2 separate regions of the Homo sapiens genome follow, and region 2 is linked to region 1. A link means that fine-mapping ties the variant in region 1 to the expression of a gene that starts in the linked region. Tissue or cell type: whole blood. Region 1 holds a variant in brackets; the other region holds the start of a gene. All regions are shown on one strand. Distances are between the middles of the regions.

Region 1 (2,760 bases):
GTGTTTTATTTTCACCTGTTCTGTGGGAGCTGGGTGCAGGCTCTGGCCCATGAGCTCTCTGTGCATGTATGTTGGATGGATGGATGGACTGATGGATGGAGTCATTCTTGGATACAGTTCCAGATTCTTAAAGCCTGAATTCCATTCAGTTCTCCATGCCCATGGCCCTAACTTTCAGCCTCTCCCTATGTGTGCTCACTCTGGTGTCTTCCAGGCCTTACCAGGGCCAGCCAAAGATCTTCAGGAGAATTTGCCCGGGCCAGGTTGCCAAGGGTAGGAGTGTTTGAGGGCTTTCCTCTGCCACCATCAGAAATTCTGTGTCCCCCAACCCTCCACAGGTATCTGAGCTGAGACCGAGCTGCTGCTGGTATCTCAGTGATGAGCGAGACCTCAAGCAGGGTGGAGTAGGTGGCAGTGCAGGCTTTGGAGTTGCTGACGAGGTTCAAGTCCCTGCACCAATGCTCCCCATCCCTGTGGCCTTGAGTACATGGTGAAACCGCATGAGGCTCAATTTCCTCATCTGTAAAATGGGAACCTTTCTGGCAGTGTCCTTGCTTGTGTAGATGAAGTGGGGGCAGGTAAATCAAGCACCTGTACCCAGCCTGGCACATGCAATTTCAGCCAGGGGGTCTCACCAGCGGCCCAGCCAGAAAAACAGGCTTCAGCCCAGGCCCAGGCCCCCTCAGTTACATGTACCCCCTGAGGTACAAAGCCAGCACCTGTGGGGTACAGCTGAGCCCTGGAATTTTTTAAGGTCCCCAGCTGATCCTCAGAGGCAGCTGTGATGATTCAGTTTATGTGTCAGCCTGACTGGGCTAAGGGGTGCCCAGATAGCGGCATGACATGATTTCCAAGTGTGACTGGGAGGGTGTTTCTGCAAGAAAGTAGAATTTGCAGTAGGGTGAGGTGGCTCATGCCTGTAATCCCAGCACTTTGGGAGGCTGTGGTGGGTGGATCACTTGAGGTCGGGAGTTCGAGACCAACCTGACCAACACGGTGAAATCCTGTCTCTACCGAAAATACAAAAATTAGCTGGGCGTGGTGGTGGGCACCTGTAGTCCCAGCTACTCAGGAGGCTGAGACATGAGAATCGCTTGAACCCAGGAGGCAGAGGTCTGCAGTGAGCCGAGA[T/A]TGGCCACTGCAGTGAGCCGAGATTGGCCACTGCACTCCAGCCTGGGTGACAGAGTGAGACCCTATCTCAAAAAAAAAAGTGGGGGCTGGGGGAGAGAGTAGCATTTGAAAGAGTAGACTGAGTGAAGAAGATCACCCTCACCACTGTGGGCGGCCACCATTCAATCCATTGAGGGCCCAAATAAAACAAGGAGGAAAAAGGTAAAATTTGCTTTCTGCTTGATCCCGTATGTCCATCTTCGCCTGCCCTTGGACATCAGAGGCCCTGGCTCTCGGGCCTTCCAGCTTGGACTGGAACGACACTGGCTTTCCTGGGCCTCCCAGCTTGCAGACGGCAGATTCTAGGACCCCTTGGCCTCCAGAATTGCATGAGCCAATTCCCATAATACAGACGGCCCCCAACTTATAAGGGTTCAACTGACAATTTTTCAACCTTATGACAGGTTTATCGAGGTACTAAAGTTGTTTTCAACTTAGGATGTGTTTATTGGGATGTAGCCTCATTGTAAATTGAGGGGCATCTGTAAATCTCATTTTTAATTTAATTTTATTTTAGAAACAGGGTCTCACTCTGTCACCGAGGCTGGAGTGCAGTGTTGCCATCAAAGCTCACTGCAGCCTCGAACTCCCAGGCTCAAGCGATCCTGCCGCCTCAGCCTCCGGAGCATCTGGGACTACGGGCGTGCGCCAGCACACTTGGTAATTTAGTTTTTTTTGTCTCACTATGTTGCCCAGGCTGATCTTGAACTCCTGGCCTAAAGTGATTATCCTGCCTCAGGCTCCCAAAGTGCTGGGATTACAGGCATGAACCGCAGTGCCCAGCCTATAAATCTATATATCTATACCTGCCTACCTATCTACCTACCTATCTGTATCTCCTGTTGGTTCTGTTTCTCTGAAGAATCCTGACTGATACAGCACCCAAAATAAGAAGCCAGCCTGGCCCACCTCTGCAGCCCACCCTGGCTACACCCCACCACTTGGAGCACACAAGCCCTCTGCCCTGTCCTGGAAGACCCCTCAACTGATTCCCCTCCCAGGACCTTGGCACCTGCCTTTCCTCCCTCCAGCCCCCTCCCCAACCTCTGCACCTGCACCCATCCTCTGTCGTTATCCTCCGTCCACAGAATCAGTGTTACTTCCAGGGACTATTCTGACGTCAGACCCCTGCTTTCCTCCATCAGCAGCTGCCACCCATTTCTTTCCTGGCGTTTGTCACACCTCAAAGGATTTTTGTTTCTTTGCCATGAGCAAAATCTCATGGCTTTCGTTTGGGGAACCCCTGACATCAGAGGCCTGAAAGGAGGACACAGTGCTGCTGGTTTATTTGGGTAGTGGCCCCAGGAAGCTGGAGTGGGAGCTGGGAGAGAAGGGCAGGAGGCCAGTAGACAGGGCACAGCTGGCCTGGTCACCGCCAGACACTGCTGGGGGCACTTGATACTCAGCCTCTCTGGAGCCCCTCTGCAGAGCTGCATAGATGAGCCTTGGGACTGGTCCTGGGAGGGGCAGGAGGTCAGGCATTTATCCCCCAACTCTCATGCCCTGTTGGCTGAGGACTGTCCCATGCCATGAAGGTCCTGCTTCCTCCCAGCTGCCTCGCCTGGAGCCGAGATGGCTCCTGAGTGAGCT
Region 2 (2,500 bases), 240 kb before region 1:
CTATATGAATTACAGGACAAACCATTAACTCTCCACTCTTATCCATTTCTCCAACTGCTGAAGGTGAAACAAACCTTTACTCATTCATGCACTCTACCAATATTTGTTAAACACCTGCTATGTGCCAAACCTTGTGCTAGGCACTGGGGAGAACATTGGCCTCTGGCCCAGTTCTTTCTTGAGCAGAGTTAATGGGACACAGTGGACCTTTAATAAGGTTGATATGTAGAAGTGACTGAATGAATGAATGGATGGTAAACTTGAGAAGTCTTGCCCACACTGAACTTACCACTTCTAATCCAGGGTAGAAGTTAGATATATTCTGGCTCATGCAGAAAGTTGGGTGTTTCCTTTTTCATTTTAACGTGGTACTTTGGGAAATAGCATGGATTCTGGCTGAAGACCAGAGGAATCCTCTGGAAGTACAAAATGTTCAGTTTGGTGCATTGTTGCATCCAGCCTTTTCCAACACACACACACACACACACACACACACACACACACACACACACACACACACACACTTAATTGAAGTGGAAAAAGAAAAAGGCTGTCAGGACAAATAAGGTTGTTATCTAGTGCCGTTTTGGTTTATAAAGGGAATGAAAAATAAGGGTGCGTGCGTGGTTATGAACCCTGGTTTTGCCACTTGTTAACTGCATGATCTTGGGTAAGTCAACCTCTCAGTGACTCCGTTTCCCTGATGATAAAATAGGTTCGATAATAGTACCCAATTCATAGGATGGTTGTGAAAATTAAATACCTTAATATGTAAAGCCCTTAGGATAGTGGCTTTGCATAGTATACACCATCCAATACTATTCTTATTCTTATTATAAATCTAGTAATTGTTACTACAGTGGTGACTTTCCTTGACCCATCTACGCCGATTCCCTCTCCGGGACTGCGCCCAAAGCTTCCAATTCCCGCCCACCCGGAGGATTCTGCGGTCGCTCCTCCTCTCGCCCCGCCTTTTGTGGATGGCCGTAGGCCCGCGGTTGCACGATGCATGCCGGGCCTTGTAGTCCGTTCGCGGAGTCCTGCCGCCGAAGGCCACGCGGGTGAACTGCATTTCCCAGCGCCCCACGCGGCGGCGGCCGTAAAGCGCGGCGGTCGAACGGCCGGTTCCGGCTGAATGTCAGTGCTGGGCTGTGGGCCGGGGAGGAAGGCGGCTCGCGGTTCCTCCACCGCCTCCGCCGCCGCATCCTCCGCTTGTGCTACCGCCGCGGGCGCTGGGCCGCTCTGCTGGTCCGGCATGAGACCGTGAGACGAGAGACGGGTCGGGGCCGCCGACATGTTTGGCCGCTCGCGGAGCTGGGTGGGCGGGGGCCATGGCAAGACTTCCCGCAACATCCACTCCTTGGACCACCTCAAGTGAGTGTGGGGGGCGTAGCGGGAGGCCTCGGGGCTGGACAGGGGGACGGGGCGCCGAGCTCCGGGTCGGGGCTCTAGGAGGCGTGAGAGCGGCGGCGAAGGGCGCCCGGGGAAGCCCGTGTGGTGGTTAAGAGCGAGGGCTCGGGAGTCAGGGCGCCTGGGTTCGAACCCTGACCCCGTCGCTCTTGGCTGTGTGACCTTGGACAAGTCGCTTAATTTCTCAGAGTCTCCGTATCCCCACCTGTAAAGCGAGAGGATGCGATTTCAGTTTATGGACACAGACTTTGTTCTTGACGGTGTCCACCAAGTTTCCTGGCGGGGTACTTCTTAAACTGAACAGCTTAGAGGGTCAAAGGCCTGGGTCCTGGAGTCGGGCAGATCTGGGTCCGAATCTATCTGTGTGAATGTAGGCCTCAGGTTCCCCACTTGTAAAAAGAGTAGAGTGACAGCACCTGCTTCCTGCTATTGTGTTGAGAGTTGGTTGGATAAGAGAATGAACGTTAAGCTCAGAACACGTACAATTGCTCATTAAACGGCATTAATTATTATAAAAGAACAGATTATTTTCCGAGGGGAGTCTAAGCTGGGGGCATGCACGCTGAGACCCAGGATTTTGGGGCGATTGGGGAGGATGATGAAAAATAGAGACCTCTGAGGAGGGAATGACTCTACAGCTCTGGGGGAGGACAGGTGGCAGATAGGGTCTTGGGACCAGGAGTGCAGAAATTAAGAGGCTGGCTTTGCAGCCACACCTGCGTTCAAATCCTGAAACCACCATTTACTGGCTGTGTGACCTTGGGCAAATTACTTCACCTCTCTGAGCCTCCAGATTCCCATTTGCAAATGGGGATCGTGAACATTGTAATGGAAATGGAAGGTGACTGACCCAGTAGGTACATAGTAGGTGGCCAGTAGTGGTAGCTGTGTTTATTATCAGCTCAGCGAGGCCTTCCCAGACCACCCTACCTAACGTGCTCCCCCCATCCCAGTTCCTATCCATCACATCTTTCTCTTGCTTTCATTGAGTGCTTCTCCACTCTCTGCGATTATTCTTTATTTTTTATTTATACTTATTTTCTGTCTTCTGTTAAACTGGCACTTCACGAGGGCACAGACTGCTTGGTTT

The links. PIP is the estimated chance that this variant, and not a neighbour inherited with it, causes the effect.
Region 2: CLEC16A starts here. The variant in region 1 is fine-mapped to the expression of CLEC16A in whole blood (INTERVAL, PIP 0.94).

Annotation. Positions count from the first base shown.
Region 1 is chr16:11,185,419-11,188,178 of GRCh38, forward strand. No RefSeq gene overlaps it. Among named protein-coding and RNA genes, the nearest start is that of SOCS1, 69 kb to the right of the region's middle. The variant T/A (reference allele first, on the strand shown) is at 1,132.
Region 2 is chr16:10,943,424-10,945,923 of GRCh38, forward strand. CLEC16A (C-type lectin domain containing 16A) reads left to right here and starts at 1,141. Exons shown (of 24, transcript NM_015226.3): 1 at 1,141-1,374. The coding sequence starts at 1,295. RefSeq lists enhancers at 754-933, 1,154-1,213.